7 linked regions of the Homo sapiens genome follow. The protein of the gene in region 1 purifies or fractionates together with the protein of each later gene. This does not show direct contact. Each region holds a gene or a part of one and is shown in the gene's direction. Other genes may lie near its edges.

Region 1 (3,500 bases):
ACACCAAGGAAATAGGTGTGCTATGTGAGCTTACTCTTAAATAATGGCTTTTAGTGAGTGTAGATAGTTCATGTGTAATGTACATCACATTATACCACCTAGGGTTTATTGTAAACTATATTGCTGCTAGATACATGTGAAAATATTTTCTTTCAATTTAGGTGTTTCCCATGATGAATTGCTTGACTTAGCAAAGTTTCATTTCGGTGACTCTTTATGCACACACAAAGGAGAAATACCAGCTCTGCCTCCCTGCAAATTCACAGGAAGTGAGGTAGGGCAAGCCTTCCAGCTAGTATTTAGCCTTTTGGATTCCTTGTGTTGTATTTACACATAAGTAAACAAAATGTGCATATTTCCAGTAGGAAAAGAATGGAATAATAGGAAAAGGGAAGAGGATGTACTCATTTGCTTACATTCCTTCCTCTTCCGTATTCTTTAACCACCTATTTTTCTTCCTAAGGAAGCAAGGTTTTTTTTGTTTTGTTTTTAAATTTCTCCATTCTAGTCTGAAAGGAAGCAAAGTTTTTAAGAGCAGTTTATAATTTGGTCTTTTTGTGCTTTTTCTTTGGCACTATGCCAATTTACATATTGTAATATCTGGAAGTAATCTTTTAAACCCCGTATTTTGACTTTCACTTCAGGTTTACTCTTGGCTCAGTTTTGCCCACAGTATGTTTTGGGAGGGGGTAGTAACTGTTAGAGCCAGAACTTGCAGGGGATCTACTAGTTATCAACTAGCTTTAAGCCCCACTAGCTGCTTAGTTTGCCATGTTGAGGATGATGCTCAAAGTAGTATCTGGAAAATGCCCTGATATTGGCAGCTGCCTAGAACTGTAGCATTGGCAGTACAAAAATAAACCTGTAACGTCAATATGACATTTCAATAGAAAAGTTCAGATTGAGGCCGGGTGCGGTGGCTTACGCCTGTAATCCCAGCACTTGGAGAGGCTGAGGCGAGTGTGTCACTTGAGGTTAGGAGTTTGAGACCAGCCTCACCAACATGGTGAAACTCCGTCTCTACTAAAAATACAAAAATTAGCTGGGCGTGGTGGTGCATGCCTGTAGTCCCAGCTACTCGGGAGGCTGAGGCAAAATTGCTTGAACATGGGAGGCCGAGGTTGCGGTGAGCCGAGATGGTGCCACTGCACTCCAGGCTGGGCGACAGAGTGAGACTCTGTCTCAAAAAAAAAGAAAGAAAAAGACAAATTCAGATTGACAAACACAAAGGATTGATTTCTACCAGTGAAATGATGCAACCCTTTTGACCAGGTAAACCATGTGGTGCCTGTCTGTAGTAAAATGCTTTGGGAAAAGTAATTTTTCCCTAATTTAGTCTTAATTCTTCTAGATTAAACTCAACAATGTAATGAGGCCTGATAGTTAAAAAATCAAAATAGAGTCCTGGTGTGCATTTTAACTTTGCAGTTAATGGGACTGGTGATTTTTTCCTTGTTAATAAGCATGTTATATAATGTTAATCTTAACTAGAGGTCCTCCTGCTTTATCTTAACTAGATTCGTGTGAGGGATGACAAGATGCCTTTGGCGCACCTTGCAATAGCTGTTGAAGCTGTTGGTTGGGCACATCCAGATACAATCTGTCTCATGGTTGCAAACACGCTGATTGGCAACTGGGATCGCTCTTTTGGGGGAGGAATGGTAAGTGATTTTAAAAGAAATTTTCCATAACAGATGGAAGATTATCATGTTTTCTTAAATATAAGTTCTTTGTAAGAATCCTTTTTTAAAGTGGCAGAATAGAGTCTTGTACTGTGAATTCTGACTTAAAAATATAAACTGATCCTGGATTGCATGTGGGCCAGAAAAAGTTTCTTTTTTTCTTTGCCACAAAGTTTATTAGTGGCAAAATTTGAATAAGGACAGAATTAGCTAGAAGTACTATGTCAATGTTAATATCCTAATTTTAATAGTCAGTAGGCCCTCTATATCTGTGGGTTCCATATCCGTGGATTCAACCAACCATAGGTGGAAAATTTTGGGGAACAAATGGATGGTTGCATCTGTACTAAACATGTATGGACTTTTTTTTTGGTCACTTCCTAAACAATATAGTATAACAACTATTTACATAGCATTTACATGGATTGGGTATTTATCTAGAGATGATTTAAAGTATACAGGAGAATGTGCTTATATGCAAATATTACATATACCATATTACATGAGGGCTCTAGCATCTGTGGATTTTGGTATCCACAGGGATCTGGGAACCAATTCTCCACAGATACTGAGGAACTATACCAAGGTGATGTAAGAACATTAATTTCCTTGTTTTTCACAAGTACATACTAAAGTATTTGGGGCAAGAAGCATCACATCTAAAACTCAGTTGAAAAAACTTGTATAAAGAGAATAAAGCAAACATGGTAAAATAACAGGGAATCTAGATAAATGAAATTCTCTGTACTGTTTTTGCAACTTTTTTGTAAGTTGGAATTATTTCAAAACACATTGTATAGATTTGTCTTTACTCATAGATTTCTCCAAAATACATTTCATCTAAATAATCTTAAGCTTCATATGCAATATAACTTTGAATCTTTAAGCGTATGTAGCCAAGAGTCCTAGAAATTGGGTTGATAATAGCCATCTAGTTTTAGAAGTAGGTATAGCTACTACATTAATTATAAGGACTCATTGCTTTTATAACATGAATTTCTCCAGGGGGTGCACTGGGTAAGTGAGATAATAAACACAATTCTTAGTCATACTGAATTTTAACTCTACTACTGAGATGTTGAATAAAACTAGGAAACAGCCTCTAAGGATATTCACTATTTTCCACACACTCCATTTTTCTTTCTGTATTTTGGACATGTATAATTAAAATTCTCTTGGAATTTTTTTTTCCTTGCAGAATTTATCTAGCAAGCTGGCCCAGCTCACTTGTCATGGCAATCTTTGCCATAGCTTTCAGTCTTTCAACACTTCCTACACAGATACAGGATTATGGGGACTGTATATGGTTTGTGAATCATCCACTGTTGCAGACATGCTACATGTTGTTCAAAAAGAATGGTGAGAAAAATAGCTTTAAGTAATTTAAATTTTGCCTTTAATTCGTTTTAAACTAGTTTTTTATTTATACTTTATGGTGATTTATGGTAATTTTACCTTTTAATTAAGAGACCTAGATAAACAGTAGTTGCCATGTTTTCAAAGGTTGCAGTTGGTTTTTCCTAAGTCTCAAGATGTGAAGCTGATTTATACTATAGAATTTTTTTTTTTTTTTTTTTTTGAGATGAGGTCTTGCTCTGTTGCCCAGGCTGGAGTGTAGTTGTGCCATCTCGGCTCACTGCAGCCTCCGCCTCCCAGGTTCAAGCCATTCTCCCACCTCAGCCTCCCGAATAGCTGGGATTACAGGCGCACCACCATGCCCACGATGCCTGGCTAATTTTTTGTATTTTTTAGTAGAGATGGGGTTTCACCATGTTGACCAGGCTAGTCCTGAACTCCTGACCTCAGGAGATCCACCCT
Region 2 (3,500 bases), on another chromosome or scaffold:
TGGATCCCGCTACAATCTGATGAACTCTGCCATAATAGAGATGTTTGAATTTATTAGAGTGGTAGGTTCTGTATTTTTAATTAGAATTTTCATTTTAATTGTTTGAGAAAATTGAATATGCATTACCTAGTATTTTGGCTTGAGATGATAATATTTGGAGAGATTTAAAAAAAAAAAAAAGTACTAAAAGCCTGTGAGAGATTTGAGTCAAGCTACATCTTACCTCTCAGCAGCTACAAATCTGTTATAGCAGGGGTCCTCAACCCCTTGGCCGCGGACCGGTCCATAGCCTGTTAGGAACCAGGCTGCACAGCAGGAGGTAAGCTGCTGGCAAGCAGGCATTATTACTGCCTGAGCTCTACCTCCTATCAGATCAGCAGCAGCATTATATTCTCCTAGGAGCATGAACCCTTTGGTTAACTGTGAGGTGGAACAATTTCATCCTGAAACTGTGCTCCCCCACTCCCACCCCAGTTGGTGGAAAAATTGTCTTTCATGAAACCAAAAAGGTTAGGGACTGCTGCTTTGTAGGATGGTCACAGTAATCATTTTAAGAAAGCAAAACTACACTTGACAGATAAGCATTTGAATGTGTTTTTCTTAACTTACACATTTCTAAAGACCAATTTCATAATACTCTTTATTCTCTAGTAATGTAATAAGCTAGTGGTTCTCATTGATGCTGTGCAAATTTATCTGGCATGGCTTTTTGTTTTGTTTGTTTCTTAGAGACAGGGTTTTGCTATGTTGCCCAGCTGGGCTCAAACGATCCTCCCACCTTAGCCTCACAAGTAATTGAGACTGGAGGTGCATACCACAGTACCTGGATGTCGTGCTTTTTTAAAAGCTGGGATAAAATAATATAAAACATTAAACTTGCTATTTTAACCATTTTAAAGTAAACATTCACATTGTTGGCAGCCATCACCATTATTCATCTCCAGAACTTTTCTGTAACATGCTTTTTTTGGGGGGTGAGGGAGGGGGGTGGGGACAGAGTCTCACTCTGTCACCCAGGCTGAAGTGCGGTGGCATGATCTCGACTCACTGCGCCTTCCACCTCCCAGGTTCATGCGATTCTTCTGCCTCAGCCTCTAGAGTAGCTGGGATTACAGACATGCGCCACCATACCCGACTAATTTTTGTATTTGTAGTAGAGATAGGGTCTCACTATTGGCCAGGCAGGTCTCAACCTCCTGACCTCAGGTGATCTGCCCACCTTGGCCTCCCAAACTGCTGGGATTACAGGCATGAGCCTCTTCACCCGGCCTGTGACATGCTTTTAAAATACGCATGGCTGTTGTGTGTTCTCTCTTGTAAGTGGGAACTAAACTTTGAGTACACATGGAAATAAAGAAGGGAACAACAACAGATACCAGAGCCACTTGAGGGTAGAGAGTAGGAGAAGGTGGGGATTGAAAAACTACCTATTGGGTACTGTGCTTACTACCTGGGTGATGAAATAAGCTATACACCAAACCCCTGTGACACGCAGTTTACCCGTATAACAAATACGCACATGGACCCCCTGAACCTAAAATAAAAATTAATTAATAAAACATATATGTCCATGGCCAGGGATAGTGGCTTATGCCTGTAATCCCAGCACTTTGGCAGGCCAAAGTGGGAGGATTGCTTTAGGCCAGGAGTTAGAGACTAGCTTGGGCAACATATCAAGACCCCATCTCTACAAAAATTTTTTGTTAAAACTTAGCCCCGTATGGTGGTGCATGCCGATAGTCCTAGCTGCTCAGGAGGCTGAGGTGGGAGGATTGCTTGAGCCCAGGAGTTCAAGCCTGCAGTGAGCTATAATCATACCACTATATCTCAACCTAGGTGCCAGAACGAGACCCCATCTCTAAAAAATACACATACCCAGCCCGCACATCAGAATCAGAATCACCTAGGGCAAGACCTGGGCATTTACTTTGTAAAGACCCATAGATAGCTGGGTGCAGTGGCTCGCACCTGTAATCCCAGCACTTTGGGAGGCCGAGGCAGGCAGATCACCTGAGGTCGGGAGTTCGAGACCAGCCTGACCAACACGGAGACACCCCATCTCTACTAAAAATACAAAATTAGCCAGGCGTGGTGGTGCATGCATGTAATCCCAGCTACTCTGGAGGCTGAGCCAGGAGAATCGCTTAAATCCAGGAGGCAGAGGTTGCAGTGAGCCGAGATCATGCCATTGCACTCCAGCCTGGGCAGTAAGAGCAAAACTCCATCTCAAAAAAAAAAGACCCATAGATAAATTGGGGACTACTATAGTAGCCAGTGTACGTTATTCCCATTTTTTATTGTTTGGTTATCTCTAAGATTATGTAGTTTTATTAAATTAAGCTATTTTTGGTGGGTATGAATTGATTAAATTAAGCCTCATCTTGCTAAAATGACATTTTCCTATCATTTTTTCATTACTATTCTTTTCTGTAGGAAGATATAAAATCATTAACTGCTCATGTAATTGAAAATTACTGGAAAGCACTGGAAGATGTAGATTATGTACAGACATTTAAAGGATTAAAACTGAGATTTGAACAACAAAGAGAAAGGCAAGATAATCCCAAACTTGACAGGTAAATTACCATATATTTAAACCTATTCGTTCAGCATCAAGTCGTATGGTAGTGGCTTTATTGTTTATTTGATATTATTTGGCTTGACAAGGAACAGGGAAATCAGCAGATAGCAAATAGAAATTGTAGCTTCCTGTAAGGGTCAACATAAATGTTTCCCTGAAGATTAGGCTGGTTATTAGTATAATACCTCAGGCATGTATCAGGCTAGATAAGGGAAAAAAAAAAAAAAAGACCAAACAGTGGAAGTGAGGCTTCATGTGTTCCAAATAAAATCAGAGGATTATATTACTTGCTTTGAATTTACAAGTTACTAAGGTTACAAATTATTATTTAAAATTTTGTACATTAATCTAAATACCTGGATTTACATTGATACTTTAATATTTGTAAATTTCATGTTAATTCCCTATGTTAACAAGTTTAATAAGTCATCTGTAACAGTACAATTAAGTCCATATATGATTGTATTTACTCTTTCTTCCCTACTCATAGTATGCGTTCCATTTTGAGGAATCACAGATATCGAAGAGATGCCAGAACACTAGAAGATGAAGAAGAGATGTGGTTTAACACAGATGAAGATGACATGGAAGATGGAGAAGCTGTAGTGTCTCCATCTGACAAAACTAAAAATGATGATGATATTATGGATCCAATAAGTAAATTCATGGAAAGGAAGAAATGTATGTTGGAAAAAAATGGGCAAGAGAAAATTAAGGCTTTCTTACTCTAGATTTATTCTTATTTCTTGACAAAATGATTATTTGCTTGGAAGGTGTGATGGCATACGGTTTAAAGACTCTATTGCTTTATGGGATGTGACTGAATAGCAGTGTTGTGTAGGCATAAACTTAAGTTTTCTTAATTTGAGTTGAATAAGGAATATACTATTTCAGGAAGGGTAGGGATACTAAATATGAT
Region 3 (3,500 bases), on another chromosome or scaffold:
GAAACAACCAGATCTCGTGAGAACTCACTATCACAAAAATAGCAAGGGGGTTTTCTGCCTCCATGATTCAGTCATCTCCTCCAACACCTGGGGATTACAATTCACAATGAGATTTGGGTGGGGACAAGAGCCAAACCATATCATTCCACCCCGGTCCCTCCCTAATTTCATGTCCTTTTTACATTTCAAAACCAATCATGCCTTCCCAACAGTCCCCCATAACTCATTCCAGCATTAACTCAAAAGTCCAAGTCCAAAGTCTCATATGAGACAAAGTAAATCCCTTCTGCCTGTGATCCTATAAAATAAAAAACAAGTTAGTTACCTCCAAGATACAACGGGGGTACAGACATTGGGTAAATGCTCCCATTCCAAATGGAAGAAATTGGCCAAAACAAAGGGGCTACAGGCCCTGGGCAAGTGCAAAGCCCAGCAGGGCAGTCTTTAAATCTTAAAGCTCCAAAATAATCTCCTTTGACTCCATGTTTCACATCCAGGGCATGCTGATACAACAGGTAGGCTCCCAGGGCCATGGCTGGCTTCGCCCCTATGGCTTTGCCAGGTACAGCCCCCATGGCTGCTTTCATGGGCTAGAGTTGAGTGCCTGTGGCTTTTCCAGGTGCATGGTGCAAGCTGTTGGTAGATCTACTGTTCTGGGGTCTGGAGGATGGTGGCCCTCTTCTCATGGCTCCACTAGGCAGTATCCCAGTGGGGACTCTATGTGGGGGCTCCAACCTCACATTTCCCTTCCGCACTGCCCTAGTAGAGGTTCTTCATAAGAGCTCTGCCCCTGCAGCAGATTTCTGCCTAGATATCCAGGCATTTCTATATGTCTTCTGAAATCTAGGTGGTTTGAGAATCAGAGGTTACCAAACCTCAGTTCTTGCCTCTACCCCACAGGCCCCGTGTCACATGGAAGCCACCAAGAGTTGGGGCTTGCACGCTCTAAAGCCATGGCCCAAGCTGTACCTTGGCTCCTTTTCGCCATGGCTGGAGCTGCAGCACCTGGGATGCAGGGTGTCCCAAGACTGCACAGAGCAGCAGGGCCCTGGGCCCAGCTCACAAAACCATTTTTCCCTCCTAGGCCTCTGGGCCTGTGAATTAACATTTGGCTCCTTGTTACTTATTCAGATTTCTGCAGCCAGCTTGAATTTCTCCCCAGAAAATGGGGTTTTCTTTTCTACTGCATGGTCAGGCTGCAAGTTTTCCAAACTTTATGCTCTGCTCCCTTTTAAATATAAATTCTAATTTCAGACCATCTCTTTCTTCATGCATATGAGCATACGCTTTTAGAAACCGCCAGAAGGCCTCTTTTTTTTTTTTTTTTTTTTTTTTTTTTTTTTTCTGAGATGGAGTCTCTCTCTGTTGCCCAGGCTGGAATGCAGTGGCATGATCTCAGCTCACTGCAACCTCTGCCTCCCAGGTTCAACTGATTGTCCTGCCTCAGCCTCCCAAGTAGCTGGGACTATAGGTGTGTGCCACCACGCCCAGCTAATTTTTGTATTTTTAGTAGAGACAGGGTTTCACCCTGTTGGCCAGGCTGGTCTCCAACTCCTGACTTCGTGATCCGCTTGTCTCAGCCTCCCAAAGTGCTGGTGTTACAGGCATGAGCCACTGTGCCCAGCCCAGGCCACCACTTGAATGCTTTGCTGCTTAGAAATTTCTTCCACCAGATATCCTAAATCATCTCTCTCAAGTTCAAGTTCCACAGATCTCTAGGGCAGGGGCAAAATGCCGCCAGTCTCTTTGCTAAAGCATACCAAGTATGACCTTTACTCCAGTTCCGAATAAGTTCCTCACCTCCATCTGAGACCTCCTCAGCCTGGACTTCATTGTCCATATCACTGTTAGCATTTTGGTCAAAACCAGTCAACAAGTCTTTAGGAAGTTCCAGACTTTCCCATATCTTCCTGTCTTTTTCTAAGCCCTCCAAATTGTTCCAACCTCTGTCTATTACCCAGTTCCAAAGTCGCTTCCACATTTTCAGGTATCTTTTTTTTTGAGATGGAGTCTTATTCTGTCATCCATGCTGGTGGGCAGTGGCACAATCTCAGCTCACTGCATCCTCTGCCTCCAGGGTTCAAGCAATTCTCCTGCCTCAGCCACCAGAGCAGCTGGGATTATAGGTGTGCACCACCACCCCCAGCTAATTTTTGTATTTTTAATAGAGAATAGGTTTCATCATGTTGGCCAGGCTGATCTTGAACTCCTGACCTCAAGTGATCCACCCTCCTCAGCCACCCAAAGTGCTGGGATTACAGGCGTGAGCCACTGCGCCCTGCCATTTTCAGGTATCTTTATAGCAGTACCACATTCCTGTTACCAATTTTCTGTATAGTTCGTTTTCACACTGCTCTAAAGAACTACCTGAGACTGTAATTTATGAAGAAAAGAGGTATAATTGACTTAAAATTCCACATAGCTGGGGAGGCCTCAGGAAACTTGTGGCGGAAGGTGAATGGGAAACAAGGCATGTGTTACATGGCAGCAGGAGAGAGAGAGCAAGGGGGGAAGTGCCACCCTTTGGAACAACCAGATCTCGTGAGAACTCACTATCACAAGAACAGCAAGGGCGAAATCCACCCCCATGATCCAGTCACCTCTCACCAGGTCCCTCCCCTGACATGTGGGGATTACAATTTGATTTGCGATTTGGGTGGGGACACAGAGCCAGACCATATCATCACTGTACACATCATGTTCTTTTTCAAAAGTTCTTAGGAAACAAAGGCAATTAATTTTGGTGTTATTTTTTTTTGTTTTTTTGGTTTTTTTTGAGACGGAGTTTCGCTCTTGTTGCCCAGGCTGGAGTGCAGTGGTGCGATCTCGGCTCACCACAACCTCTGCCTCCCAGGTTCAAGTGATTCTCCTGCCTCAGCCTCCCAAGTAGCTAAGATTATAGACATGCGCCACCACACCCGGCTAATTTTGTATTTTTAGCAGAGACGGGGTTTCTCCATGTTGGTCAGGCTGGTCTTGAACTCCGGCCTTGGGTGATCTGCCTGCCTCAGCCTCCCAAAGTGTTGGGATTACAGGCGTGAGCCACCATGCCCGGGCAGCAATGTTTTATAAGTTTTTTAATTACTGCTGTTTTTAGATGTTTTGACTTAGCAGTATTTATTGATATACGTTCAAAATTTTACTTTTGCTTTAGCAAAAGAAAGTGAAGACAAGGAAAACCTTCCCAAAAGGACATCTCCTGGTGGCTTCAAATTTACTTTCTCCCACTCTGCCAGTGCTGCTAATGGAACAAACAGTAAATCTGTAGTGGCTCAGATACCACCAGCAACTTCTAATGGATCCTCTTCCAAAACCACAAACTTGCCTACGTCAGTAACAGCCACCAAGGTAGGTGAAACAGCATTACACACAAACTTTGCTTTTCCCGTCTGTGAGATTTTTTCATGTTTACTGAAAAAAATTTGGATAATCAAAACAATTTCAATGAATTGTTTAGAATTTTTCTGTTACCAAAATGTTGATTGTAGAATTTTATTTTA
Region 4 (3,500 bases), on another chromosome or scaffold:
ATTGATACCAAAAGGCTGAATAAAATGAAGACTTGTAGGTAAGTATGATGTGAACATGAGTCTATTTTTTTGAAACTTCTCTAAAATAACAGTAAAAGCATAAAACAGTGTAATACCTTAAGGATGTGGGATAGAGGAGATGACAGAAGACAGATGGTTTCAATAAAGTGTTGGAAAGTGGAAAGCAGATGGGTAAAGGTGGATTTTCTCTGTTTAAGCTAGGGGGGTCTCTCCCAACATCCTGGGAAGGTCCCCAATGGTATCTTCACATGGTGATAGGTTTTTGTGAAATTTGCAAGATATTTTGATAATTTGTAGTTGTTTATTTTCTTTCAACTCTGACTTGTTTTCTGTTAGGTGGTGCTGGAATAGCTGTGGGCATTTTGAAATCAGGCTAAGACAAAGATGAGCTGGGGATGTGCTTAGTATGGGTTTAGTGGTATATATGTGATTTGCAATTATTTCTGTGTATAGTTAAGTACTTGTTAGCCATCCCAGTATAACTTAAGATTTTTAGTATCTTATTTGTTATTCTGGTTCTTGAAGGAGTCCTTCAAATTGTAAAACTTGGATCTGTCCCTGGTAACTGACATAGCAGAATGGAGGAATTCACAACCTTGGGGTGGGGTGGGAAGGAAGCCAATAAAAAGCAAGCTGATTTGTGCTGTAGACTTCTGGGGAGGCTCAGGAATTTGAAGCATTGGGTTCTTTTTGGGACATTGGTCTCTGGGTTAGCCTAAAACAGGGATTAGTTAAAAATCTGAGAAGCAGATCCTTTTCCTTAGCACAGGAGCAAACTGTGCTCTCCTTCCCCATCAGAACACTGTGGATGTATTCTCTAGAGGGGCTAAACGAGAGGTTCTGGGCTTGAGCCTACTAATACCAGGCATAGTTGAGGGTGGAGGTAAGACTCTACATTAAGAACAGGATTAAGTAAAATTCTCTATGCTGAATGGTGATTCCCTCTTCCTACCACTTCCTCTGTTTAACTGCCAGAATGCCAATAGGCAGGAGAGTAGATATGTCTTCTCTGGGTAGTTGACCAGGTACAGGAAAGACCTACAAATTCACTGGCTTTTCCACAATGAAATAGCCAGCTGCCTTGTCATCTTACGGTGAAGGCCTCCAGTAGCTAAGTTTTATTAGCAAATAGAGATCTTAGTTTTTAGTTTCTTGTCATTAAATAAAAAGCCAAGGATTGTTAAATGTATGTTCATAAATATTAGTTTTACAAGACACTAGGGTGTGATTCCAACAGCTTTGACTCCGTTTAGGAGCCGGTGCTTTTGACTTCTTTGGGGCTAAGCTTCTTGCTGTGGCTTCTGCTTGTTGCTCTGGTGAAGCACTGAAGAGAGGGAAAACAATCAGCATAAATTTTTTTTTTTTTTTTGAGACAGAGTCTTGTTCTGTTGCCCAGGGCAGAATGCAGTGGCACAACCTCGGCTCACTGCAACCTCTGCCTCCCAGGTTTAAGCAATTCTCTTGCCTCAGCCTCTGAGTAGCTGGGATTGCAGACATGTGCCACTACGCCCCACTAATTTTTGTGTTTTTAGTAGAGATGTGGTTTTGCCATTTTGGCCAGGCTGGTCTCACACTGCTGACCTCAAGTGATCCACCCAACTTGGCCTCCCAAAGTGCTGGTATTACAGGTGTGAGCCACCGTGCCGGCCCTAATCAGCATAATTTGTGATGTCATGGCCCTAGATCTAAATGCCAGGAGATTCTCACAGAAACAAAATTTAATGAGTGCCTGTATCTGAATTCTGTTACTCAGGATTTATTGATAGTTCTTTTTCTTTTCTTATTTTTTTTTTGGGGATGGAGTCTCTCTCTGTCACCCAGGCTGGAGTGCAGTGGCACAATCTCTGCTCACTGCAAGCTCCGCCTCCCGGGTTCACACCATTCTCCTGCCTCGGCTTCCCAAGTAGCTGGGACTACAGGCACCCGTCACCACACCCAGCTAATTTTTTGTATTTTTAGTAGTGATGGGATTTCACCATGTTAGCCAGGATGGTCTTGATCTCCTGACCTCGTGATCCACCTGTCTCGGCCTCCCAAAGTGCTGGGATTATAGGCATGAGCCACCGGGCCCGGCCAATAATTCTTGAATATTGATAGTTTATTGAAATTTGTAGGCAGATTTAGGGGAGATCAAAGGACTGCTCTTCAGACTGGGAAAGAAATAGCTTTTCTTTCTGTATTTTGACTTGTTATTTTTGATTAAAAAACATGTTATACCAATTTAAAACGCTTCTCCCCTTTCCTCCAGTGATAAATGCTGCTCATTCTTTCTACAATGGAACAACAACCCTACCAATATCAGATGAAGATAGAACCCCACGGAAAAGAATTAGCAAAACGTTAAATATGACCACAAGTCCTGAAGAGAAAAGAAAAATCATTGGGGATACTTTTGTTAAGGTACCTTTGTTTTTAATATCCTCAACATGTACTATTTTTGATGTGAATCTTAGTATTTGTTTTTCCTTGTCACTATATCAAATAACCAAATTAGCTAATTTTAATCCTTTTTCTTATGTGGCTGAGAGTTTTATTGTATATTGTCATTATATTGACCAGTAGAAACTGTTTTATGTTTTTTTGTTGTTGTTTGGTTTTTTTTTTGTTTTTTTGAGACAGAGTCTTGCTGTGTCACCAGGCTGGGCTGGAGTGCAGTTGCACGATCTCGGCTCGCTGCAACCTCTGCCTTCTGGGTTCAAGTGATTCTCCTGCCTCAGCCTCCTAAGTAGCTGGGACTACAGGGGTGCACCATCATGCCCAGCTAATTTTTGTACTTTTAGTAGAGACGGGGGTTTCACCATGTTGGCCAGGTTGGTCCGGATCTCCTGACCTCATGATCCGCCCGCCTCAGCCTCCCGAACTTCTGGGATTACAGGTGTGAGCCACTATGCCCAGCCAACTGTTTTATGTTTTAATAAACATGTTTGCCTACATTGCCAGGCTATTATTTTAAGAATAGATGTCTTTAAGAGTAGATGTATTCAGCTTATCATAGACTTTAATTCATTGATTATCTCAATGGCTAATTTCAAGCTCTTGAATGGAATGTTCACATACCTTTGTTTTTGTTTTTTTTTTTTTTTGGAGGCGGAGTTTTGTTCTTGTCACTCAGGCTGGAGTACAATGGAGCGATCTTGGCTCACGGCAACTTTCACCTGCTGGGTTCAAGCGATTCTCCTGCCTCAGCCTCCCGAGTAGCTGGGATTACAGGCATGCACCACCATGCCCAGCTAATTTTTTTCTTTTTTTGAGATGGAGTCTCACTCTGCCGCCCAGGCTGGAGTGTAGTGGTGCAATCTTGGCTCACTGCAAACTTTGCCTCCAGGGTTCAAGCGATTCTCCTGCCTCAACTTCCTGAGTAGCTGGGATTACAGGCGTGTGCCACCATGCCCGGCTAGTTTTTGTATTTTTAGTAGAGACGGGGTTTCACCATGTTAGTCAGGCTGGTCTCAAACTCCTGACCTTGTGATCTGCCTGCC
Region 5 (3,500 bases), on another chromosome or scaffold:
CACAGGACCGTTGTAGATATACACCCCTTTTATCCCATAGTCACCATCTTGAAGCTCTGGGTTAACTGCAAAGTTCTGTCAAGATTGTTCCCTGGAGAGAACGTCATACCACAGAAAAACATCCTCTGAAAATCTAGCTTTGCAGGCATTTAGTTGGGATTGCCTTTTGAACTTTGAATACATACCCATTAATTATTCTCTCTCTGAAGCAGCTTGTAACTGTAGTCTTTGTAAGGAGCAAAGGTCAGCTTGAAACTATTTTGATTTACTTGTTTATTGATCTCAACCAAGAATTCCTTTATTTGAAACTCTTCCCTTAGGAAGTCAATTTGATAACCTTAGCCCATTCATTTTGAAGGTGTCAGTTATAAGTAGTCTTGCCAATGAGTAATGGAGGAGCTAAAATTACTAATAAATTAATTAGAATGCATTTATAAACCTAGTGGAAAGCCATGTACGAAGTTGCTTTTTTATTGATTATTATACCAGTCATTAACTGCTGAGAAAATTCCCCTGTAGCAAGCAGAGAACATTGGCCAATTCGTTTGGTAATTGTAGGATTCTGTCAATAAGCTTTCAATATTTTGGAAAGTAATTACTCATTCACTCCAACCATTCACAATGTGTGGACAAAGTGGTTGGGCATTTTGGGGCAAGACTAAGGATTTAAGCAGACATTAACTTCCATATAAGATTCTCTCTTGTCGCTCAGTGCTACTTTAAGTCATGTGCGGTCTATATATATACTTATAACAAGTATTCTTAGATGTTAATATGCTGGTCTACACAGATTTGTATCAAAGTGCTTGAATATTGTGGTAGGGAAACCCTTGGAGAAAACCCTCTACCTGGGGTCTCTAACGCCAAGATGCCATATACAGCCATGTTTTATTTTCATAAGAAGCAAGTATAATTAGGAGATTATAGCCACTGCTTTTCAGTGAGTGAGAAATGTTCTGTGGCTGTTTCCCTTTCAAGAGTCAGGTGCCTGTCAGCAATGCTGGAGGAGAATAGGTAGTATCTGTAAATTATTGTTCAAAGATTCCTGGCTATCAATATCCCAAGTTAAGTAAAAGAACATTGGCCAGGTGCAGTGGCTCACACCTGTAATCCCAGCACTTTGGGAGGCTGAGGTGGGCAGATCACAAGGTCAGGAGATCGAGACCATCCTGGCTAACACGGTGAAACCCCATCTGTACTAAAAATACAAAAAATTACCTGGGCATGGTGGCACATGCCTGTAGTCCCAGCTGCTTGGGAGACTGAGGCAGGAGAATCGCTTGAACCTGGGAGGTGGAGGTTATAGTGAGCCGAGATTGCGCCACTGCACTCCAGCCTGGGCAGCAGAGTGAGACTCTGTCTCCGAAATAAATAAATAAATAAATAAATAAACAAACAAACAAACATTATGATGACATGGCATCACAGAACACTAATTTCTACACTAAGAGAGATAATAAAAGGGGTCAGATACCCAGATACCAATAATGCCACCCTCTCCACTGCAGTCTCTCCCTGATTGTATGTATAGGAGATCTGTAAATCAAGGAAAGTGCCCTGTAGTCTGTCTCCTATTATGGAATGAGTTTTGCTGGGTCCAGGAGATTTCCACCAGCTCCAGAAACTAGAGACAATTGTGCTAATAATGCCTGGCATCCTGGCTTTGTGACTGACCAGTCTTGGTCTTTTCGTGTCTTATAACTTGAATCTGAAGCACCATAAGATGGTCCTGCACGAATCAAGGGCATGGCCCTTGTTTTAAGGATTGTTATTGCCATTTTTTCCAATTAAAAAACCAAGGCCCAGAGAAGAACTAGGTTATTTTATCAAGGTTACAGAGTTAGTAATGTATGCTGGAAATTGCTAAAAGTATATATTTTAAGTGCTCTCCCACACCAAAAAGAAAAACCAAAAACTATATGAGAAGATGGATGTGTTAATTTGCTTCAGTGTAGTAATCATTTCACTGTGTTTAATTATTTCACTGTGTTATATGTATATCAAAACATGATGTTGTATGCTTTAAATACACAGTTGTCCCTCAATATATGCAGGGAATCGGTTCCAGGAATCTCAGATATACCAAACTTCGTTCATATTGCACAATTCCTGCAGTTGGCCTTGCAGAACCCATGTATGTGAAAAGTCGACCCTCTGGGGCTTTACATCTTGAGAATAAAAATCCAGCTATAAGTGGACCCTCACAGTTCAAACCCATGTTGTTCAAGACTCAAGTGTATACAATTTTTATTTTTAATAAATGTTACAGAGTTAGTTAAGGATCAAATAAAAATCGAGCGATTCTAGTCTGGCATTCTTTCCACTAAATCTTTTGGAAATACTAGACAGGATACTGATTCAATAAAAATTTCACTTTACCATATCAAGAAAAGGACAATAGGGGACAAAATAATTAATAATATTGTCTAGTCTCTCTTTACATAGAAGAGAAAGGTGATAATTAGTGGTTAAATACTAAAAATATATAATAAAAATAATGAATCAAAGCTGTATCTATGAAGCTGTGCCAGTCTGTAACTTTTAATGGTTGATGGCAACTTTTGGGGTTATTCTATTGAAATGAGAACAACAGGTAGAAATTACTATGTTCTTTACTAGAACGTAAGTCCCTTGACAACAGGGACCAAACCCTAAAATTTAAAGGTCAAGAAAGCCAAAGCAGCCTCTCCTGCCTGTAACATGTGAAAAAAAATGACAGTACTTAACTTTCCCTTCGCTTGTGCCTACCAGCCTGAAGAACTTAATTTATAGATCCTCAAGAGATATTCAAGTATGATTGTTTTCTTCTTTATTTAGTTGTCTGTTTTGATGCCAAGATAAACTTTGATGACAACGCAGAATTCCGACAAAAAGACATATTTGCTATGGACGACAAATCAGAGAATGAGCCCATTGAAAATGAAGCTGCCAAATATGATCTAAAATACATAGGACTAGATGGGAACATTGCCTGCTTTGGTAAGAAGCAGTTATATCAAAAGAATGCTTTGTGGATTCTTATAGAATTTAGGAAACCTTGATTTCTGAAATGTCACTTACCAAGAAGAAGTAAGCACATAAGTTTTTTTGTAGCTGAAAAGTCTTAGGAAAGTATCCAAGTTTCTTCTCAAAGTTGTTTTGATTAATGGTCACTGGTGTAAAGCAGAATTTCTCAACTCTGGCACTATTGGGAGTTTGGGTGGGATAATTCTTTACTGTCCTGTACATCATAAGATGTTTAGCATCCTAACCTCTAGATACTACTAACAACCCCCACTTGTGAAGACAAATAAACCCATGTAAATCAATAAATTAAAATAAATGTCTTCAGACAGTTCCAAATGGCTGTGGTATGCAAAAATCACCCCAACTGAGAAATATTGACTTAAAACATCTCAGTTAAACTTTGCTTAGTAAAAAATTAGAACCTTTGCTGCTCAACTCAGTATTAATATGCAGAACTCTTCTGAAATTTAGGTTTAAAACAAAATTCCTTTATC
Region 6 (3,500 bases), on another chromosome or scaffold:
TCTCTCAGACTCACTGTCCTTCATTGCCTAATACCTAGTGCCTTAAAAACTATTGTTTAAGGCCAGGTGCGGTGACTCACGCCTGTAATCCCAGCACTTTGGGAGACCGAAGCAGGTGGATCACTTGAGGTCAGGAGTTCGAGACCAACCTGGCCAATATGGCAAAACTCCGTCTCTACTAAAAATACAAAAAATTAGTTGGGCGTGGTGGTGAGTGCCTGTAATCCTAGCTATTCAGGAGGCTGAGGCAGGAGAATCACTTGAACCCAGGAGGCGGAGGTTGCAGTGAGCTGAGATCACACCACTGCACTCCAGCCTAGGCAACACAGTGAGACTCCATCTCAAAAAAACAACAACAAAAACAACAAAAAACTATTGTTTCATATGTTTTGTGGGAGTGTTTTCTGGTTGTTTCAGGTGGGGTGGTACATCAGTCCCTGTTACTTGTTGTCAATGAAAAGAGTCAAACTTATGGCCAGGCATGGTGGCTCACGCCTGTAATCCCAGCACTTTGGGAGGCCGAGGCAGGTGGATCACCTGAGGTCAGAAGTTTGAGACCAGCCTGGCCAACATGGTGAAACCCCGTCTCTACTAAAAATACAAAAATTAGCCAAACATGGTGGTGCACACCTGTAATCCCAGTTACTCGGGAGGCTGAGGCAGGAGAATCACTTGAGCATGGGAGGAGGAGGTTGCAGTGAGCCGAGATCACGCCACTACACTCCAGCCTGGGCGACTCTGCCAGAGTCTCAGCCAGTGTGAGACTCTGTCCCCCTGCCACCAAAAAACAAAAATAAAAGAAAGAAAGAAAAAAGAAGAGAGTCCAACTCTAAAATATTTGAAGAGCTTTATTCTGAGCCAAATATTCAATTCAGTGAGACTACCTGTTTTTGCCTACAGTTTCCCTCCCTGCACTACAGCCTCGAAGCTCCCTTAAGCAGTAAGCTGTAGGAATTGTAGGGCTTACCTTATTGTTCCCCCATCTCTCAGACTCAATGACCAATGGCCCATGACACAACCCTCAGGACATCCTGAGAACCTGTGCTCAAGGTGATCAGGCTACAACTTGGTTTTATACATTTTAGTAAGACATAAGACATTAATCAATACATTTAAGATGTACATTGGTTTGGTTTGGAAAGGAGGGACAACTGGAAGGGGTGGGGGTGGTTGGGAGGGGTTGGGGGTAGCTTCCAGGTCATAGGTAGATTCAGAGGTTTTCTGATTGGCAGTTGGTTGAAAGAATTAAGTTATTGTGTAAAGACTTAGAATCAATAGAAAGGAATGTCTGGGCTTATGATAAGGGTTTGTGGAAACCAAGATTTTATCATGCAGATGAGGCTTCCAGGTAGCAGGCGACAGAGGAGATTGCAAATGTTTCTTATCAGACTTAAAGAGTCAGTTCAACAAAGTTTGTGTTGATGTTAATGCTGGTCAGCTAGGCCTGAATTCCAAAAGGGAGGAGGGTATAATGAGGCATGCCTGGTTCCCCTTTCCCTTCGTGGCCGAACTAGTTTTTCAGATTAACTTTGGAATGCCCTTGGCCAAAAGGAGGGATCCATTTGGACGGTCTAGGAGGCTTAGAATTTTATTTTTGGTTTACATAATGTCTAAAAATTAATACGTTCTTTTTCTCCTTGCTAAAAGGTAAGTTGTTTCATGTTTGCCAGCCATTTATACCTTATTAGAGATGAATTTATGAGCTAAGTGACCGAGAGTAGGTTAGATTGGGAGAGGGCATATACTAAACTGTTTATCCAAGGTGGTGTGAAAAGGAAAGTAAAAGTGTAGGACTCTAACATAATCACTTACACCACTGATTTGTCTAGGGCAGATTATCTCTGGATAATCTTAGAATTCACCAAGAAGCAGAGACAGAAGTGACTCCCTGTGTTGTGGTGCTTGCTAATGGAGTGCGGCCTTTTTCATGTTTTCCTTCCCTAGGACCAGTGTACCATGAGTACTGTGAGTGTCCGGAAGATCCTCAGGCCTGGCAGAAGACTCTTTCTTGTCCAACCAAGGAACCACAGATTGCAAAAGATTTTGCTTCCTTTCCCAGCATCAATCTCCAGCAAATGCTAAAAGAAGTCCCCAAAAGGTTTGGGGATGAGAGAGGTGCCATTGTTCATTACACGATTCTCAATAACCATGTTTACCGGAGATCTTTAGGGAAATACACAGACTTCAAGATGTTCTCTGATGAGATTTTGTTATCATTGACAAGAAAGGTAGGAGAATGAATGAATTGATAATACAGTTTAATTATTTAGGTATAACATTTAAATGTTTAGAATTATAATGACAAAGGATGAAACAGATTTCAGGCTGAGAAATGGGCATCTAAGATATTTGCAACCTGAGTGTTCATCATGTTCTCCATCTTTGTGGATCTTACTTTCCTGTAAGATTTAAAATTAAGTGGCTTGAGGCCAGGCATGGTGGCTCATACCTGCAATCACAGCACTTTGGGAGGCTGAGGCGGGTGGATCATCTGAGGTCAGCAGTTCAAGGCCAGCCTGGCCAACATGGCAAAACCCCATCTCTACTAAAAATACAAAAATTAGCTGGGCGTGGTGGTGGGCGCCTGTAATCACAGCTACTCAGGAGGCTGAGGTAGGAGAATCCCTTGAACCCAGGAGGTGGAGGCTGCAGTGGGCCAAGATTGCGCCACTGCACTCCAACCTGGGTGACAGAGTGAGACTCCATCTCAAATAAATAAATAAATAAATAAATAAATAAATAAATAAAATAGAATAAAGTGGCTGAGCCCCCATCCCAGGTAGGTATGCCATACAGGACACTCCCAAGCTTTCTTTGAGCTTCCAGAGATTTATAACAAGGTTACTTCTTATTCTTTTTTTCAAATAGTCTATATTTACAATATCCAAACAGAACAGTCTCATTTATTTATTTATTTTTAAATAGGGATGGGGTCTTGCTGTGTTGAGCAGGCTGGTCTCAAATTCTTGGGCTCAAGCCATCCTCCTGCCTCAGCCTTGATCCTAGCTGGGACTATAGGCATGCACAACCATGTCAAGAGGCCGCTTTAAGTTCTCTGTTCCGCTGAATACTACTCCTGCTTAGATTTCACCTTCTGCAGCTGTTTTCTTCTCTTCACCTCAAAATGACTTGAACTTAGAACACATTTTCCTTGTTTTACCCTAAGCATACCTAGAAGATAGCGTGCATGGGACATTTTGTCAAAGCTTGGGCTACCAGAAACAGGTTGTTTTTTTTTTCACCAGTGCATACTAAAAAACAAACAAACAAAAACCCTGATATTTAAAAATAGACATCTCTGCACTAATCAGACTCTCAGTCATACTTGCCTCTGGGAATTTCTCAGGGCTGTCCTTGACCTTAAGTTCTTAGCCTCTCACTAATGTGGTTAGGCCCTCTGTTTTTCAGGCTCCCCACATCCCCCAATAGCGCCCCCTTATCTCACTATTCAGCCTCTCTTTCCACATTTGCAGAACTCTAAATTCCTCTTAAGCAGAGCA
Region 7 (3,147 bases), on another chromosome or scaffold:
ATAAAGACTGAGTCATTTCCTTAAAACAGTGTTCTTTAACCTCCTCTTCTTCACATACAGCATATCTAATTCTTTATCACAACAGGTTTTATGGAGGTACACAGAATGTAGGATACTGATAATAGTTATGTCTTTATTTTCTTTGGAAAATGAAATGAGTTAATATTTATCAAAAAAAGTCAGTCAGATAGTAAATATCGTATTCCTGTGAGCTGTTATTATTATCATTGATGTACAAGACTAAAAATTAGGTAAGTATTCTCACAGGACAACAGGTAACTTTGACATTATGTTTCTTTCAATATTGTAGTGTATACTTTATCAAAAAAAGAATATAAGAATATTACCGATGAAGATAATAAGAATAAGAAAACGATTTTGAGCGTTTCATATAACAAATAGGACCAGGCGTGGTGGCTCTTGCATGTAACTCAGCACTTTGGGAGGCTGAGGCAGGAGAATTCCTTGAGGCCTGGAGTTTGGGACCATCCTGGACGATATAGCAAGACCCTGTCTCTAAAGAACAAAGCACAACAAGTCTAAAATAACTCAGAAATAGCTGAAAGCTAATTTTTATATAATATAAACTTATCGGTTAAAATGCTTTAAAGTCCTTATGCAAAATGTTTTTTTTTCCTAAATTTCTTCTAGGTAATTGATCTGGGTGGTGAGCCAATTAAAAGCAGTGACTACTTTGGTAATGGCCGGGTGACAGAATTCAAGTATGGTGCAAAACTCGGCACAGTTATTCGCAAGTGGAATGGAGAGAAGATGTCTTACTTAAAGTAAATAAATACAACTTTTCCCCTGAACTATTTCATAGATCTGTTAGTCATACTACCCCAGTGCGAGTTATCTTCTGGAACATTCTTATTCAGACAACTATTAAGGAGTCAGTTGTTAATGATAAGTATTCTAGTGCCCTAAACTCTAATCAATCATCTTTTGTATTTAGAGTGTCTGTCACAAGACAGTATGCCTAGGAACGCTAAACTTACCCTAGGAGTTTCTGTCTGCGTACAAGATGAATATACTGGATTTGACTGATGTTTGCATATAATCTTTTAAAGCCAGGTTATTATTAAAATGATCCTATCATTTATAAAGTATGTACAAAGTGTCCATGCTATTGTATTTACTTATACGAATTGGAAATGTAAAATGATTTATATTATAACAATACAATATTAAAGCCTTATTTTAATCTAGTTTGACATTCTGTATAATGTGATGTGGATATTGATCCTTCTGGAGTGCCTCTAAATGATAATGTGCTGAAACCTCTGAAAGGAAATTTTTTAATAACAAACATTTTATATTTGTAATATGAATATAAGTATTCCATACATGTATATACAAATATGGACTATATATATGTAGATTACACACGTGTGTTTGTTTATGAGGTGTGTGTGTATATATATGTGAGTGTGTGTTTGTGTGTGTGTGTGTATATATATATATCTTACAGAGTAACCATCTAATTAGAGAAAGAATTTAATCTTCAGATGCCATGCCTTACAGAAAGAGATGCACAGTAGAGTTACTCTCAAACTATTGTGAAATGATACATCAACGTATATCTTATGTTTCAAAAATAGGAACTGGGGAGAAGGTTGGGGTTTCATGCCTTCTGACAGAGCGCTTGTCTTTGTGGATAACCATGACAATCAACGAGGACATGGCGCTGGAGGAGCCTCTATACTTACCTTCTGGGATGCTAGGTAGAAAACCAAGTTCTCTATTTTTTAACACCTCTTTTAATGATGGTATGAATATTGTGATATTCTATGATAATATAATTATGTAACTTTCAGGCTGTACAAAATGGCAGTTGGATTTATGCTTGCTCATCCTTATGGATTTACACGAGTAATGTCAAGCTACCGTTGGCCAAGATATTTTGAAAATGGAAAAGTAAGTTTTGGAGTTGTTCAAAATATCCTTTTCTCAAGAAAAAAGAGGCAATCTTCTCCTAATTTAATATGACAACTATTAAGTGTTTATTTATTCAACAAATATTTAATTATTGTAAACCTGATACAGGGTTGTGATTTAGTAATGCAGGTTATATTAAAGGAATAAACTTTATATTCTCCATTGAAAAAGAATAGCAAGCTTTTTCAGAGATATGACAAACATCCCCCTAGCCCGCAGGGAAAATAAAAATAAAAATTAAAAAAACCACTTAAAAATAAGAGCTAGGCACAGGGATTAAAATATATACTTCGTACCTTCCTCAGGTTTAATTGGAAGAATATAGATGCCAACCCTTGTAGAGAACTTAAAACATCATCTGCCCGTAGTGAGAACAATATAAATGTCTTTTAAATACTGTTAAAAAGTTATATGGTATAGAAACAAATGATCCAGTTCAGCTGAGTTAAATAGGGAAAGTATACTATAAGAGGAAGGAAATTGTATGTACTAAAGGATAGAAATTTATAGAGAGTATTCCAAGAAAGGTAAGAATGAGAAAAATATTTGGGAGTATGGTAAAGACATCACTCTGCTGAGTAGTTTCAAAAAGGAACAGAGAAATAAGAGTGTAAAGATATTTGGAAAGCTAGTAGAAGGTTTTCTTTTAAACTAAAGGGTTGAGAAACAGCATCAGAGACTTCAGAACTAAAGCAGAAATTCCTCCTTCCTATGAGTCACACAGATATCTAGCTAGCTTTTTTTAGATTCCTTTCAGTTTGAGAAGTCCGCTACTATGTATAACAACTGATTCTATTGTTAAACAGCTTTAATATTTAGAAGGTGTACTTTTATATTGAGACAACTTCTTATAATTTCTACTAATTGGTCTTATTTCTGTTGTTAGGAGTCAGAGAGTTCTTTTATTTTTTCTATTACTATAACATTCCCACTTTGACAGGACTGCTGCATGCTATAAACTCTTAAGTTTTGTTCACTTTTCACCATATGACGTGATTTTAAGGTGAACACTGATAAACTTCCTAGGGTTACTCTGTGTTTTTTAATGAAGATTTCTTAAAGTGCCAATCAGAAAAGCATAATACTAAAAATATGGTCAATTTATAAAAAAAAATGTTCAGATGTAGTATTTTGTACATTTATCTAAAAAGAAGCATGACGGCCTCCAATATTTATTTAGCATATGTCATGTTCAAGGCATTTTCACAT

What was found.
Region 2: the proteins of PMPCB (region 1) and PPP4R3A purify together in Homo sapiens (affinity purification with mass spectrometry; 3 studies listed by BioGRID and IntAct, with this or other methods). This does not show direct contact.
Region 3: the proteins of PMPCB (region 1) and PPP4R3B purify together in Homo sapiens (affinity purification with mass spectrometry; 3 studies listed by BioGRID and IntAct, with this or other methods). This does not show direct contact.
Region 4: the proteins of PMPCB (region 1) and GMPS fractionate together in Homo sapiens (co-fractionation; one large-scale study listed by BioGRID). This does not show direct contact.
Region 5: the proteins of PMPCB (region 1) and SUCLG2 purify together in Homo sapiens (affinity purification with mass spectrometry; 2 studies listed by BioGRID, with this or other methods). This does not show direct contact.
Region 6: the proteins of PMPCB (region 1) and POGLUT3 fractionate together in Homo sapiens (co-fractionation; one large-scale study listed by BioGRID). This does not show direct contact.
Region 7: the proteins of PMPCB (region 1) and AMY1C purify together in Homo sapiens (affinity purification with mass spectrometry, with the first as the bait; 3 studies listed by BioGRID). This does not show direct contact.

Annotation. Positions count from the first base shown.
Region 1 is NC_000007.14:103,307,435-103,310,934, forward strand, and holds part of PMPCB (mitochondrial-processing peptidase subunit beta isoform 1 precursor), read left to right. Parts: intron 1-161; coding exon 162-274; intron 275-1,517; coding exon 1,518-1,661; intron 1,662-2,880; coding exon 2,881-3,041; intron 3,042-3,500. UniProt on the Homo sapiens protein: Catalytic subunit of the essential mitochondrial processing protease (MPP), which cleaves the mitochondrial sequence off newly imported precursors proteins. Preferentially, cleaves after an arginine at position P2.
Region 2 is NC_000014.9:91,461,811-91,465,310, reverse strand, and holds part of PPP4R3A (serine/threonine-protein phosphatase 4 regulatory subunit 3A), read left to right. Parts: coding exon 1-61; intron 62-2,433; coding exon 2,434-2,576; intron 2,577-3,071; coding exon 3,072-3,262; intron 3,263-3,500. UniProt on the Homo sapiens protein: Regulatory subunit of serine/threonine-protein phosphatase 4. May regulate the activity of PPP4C at centrosomal microtubule organizing centers.
Region 3 is NC_000002.12:55,558,623-55,562,122, reverse strand, and holds part of PPP4R3B (serine/threonine-protein phosphatase 4 regulatory subunit 3B), read left to right. Parts: intron 1-3,154; coding exon 3,155-3,348; intron 3,349-3,500. UniProt on the Homo sapiens protein: Regulatory subunit of serine/threonine-protein phosphatase 4 (PP4). May regulate the activity of PPP4C at centrosomal microtubule organizing centers.
Region 4 is NC_000003.12:155,912,150-155,915,649, forward strand, and holds part of GMPS (GMP synthase [glutamine-hydrolyzing]), read left to right. Parts: intron 1-2,269; coding exon 2,270-2,421; intron 2,422-3,500. UniProt on the Homo sapiens protein: Catalyzes the conversion of xanthine monophosphate (XMP) to GMP in the presence of glutamine and ATP through an adenyl-XMP intermediate.
Region 5 is NC_000003.12:67,497,613-67,501,112, reverse strand, and holds part of SUCLG2 (succinate--CoA ligase [GDP-forming] subunit beta, mitochondrial isoform 2 precursor), read left to right. Parts: intron 1-2,817; coding exon 2,818-2,979; intron 2,980-3,500. UniProt on the Homo sapiens protein: GTP-specific succinyl-CoA synthetase functions in the citric acid cycle (TCA), coupling the hydrolysis of succinyl-CoA to the synthesis of GTP and thus represents the only step of substrate-level phosphorylation in the TCA.
Region 6 is NC_000011.10:108,484,885-108,488,384, reverse strand, and holds part of POGLUT3 (protein O-glucosyltransferase 3 isoform 1 precursor), read left to right. Parts: intron 1-1,944; coding exon 1,945-2,228; intron 2,229-3,500. UniProt on the Homo sapiens protein: Protein glucosyltransferase that catalyzes the transfer of glucose from UDP-glucose to a serine residue within the consensus sequence peptide C-X-N-T-X-G-S-F-X-C. Can also catalyze the transfer of xylose from UDP-xylose but less efficiently.
Region 7 is NC_000001.11:103,752,898-103,756,044, forward strand, and holds part of AMY1C (alpha-amylase 1C precursor), read left to right. Parts: intron 1-651; coding exon 652-785; intron 786-1,601; coding exon 1,602-1,724; intron 1,725-1,817; coding exon 1,818-1,917; intron 1,918-3,147. UniProt on the Homo sapiens protein: Calcium-binding enzyme that initiates starch digestion in the oral cavity.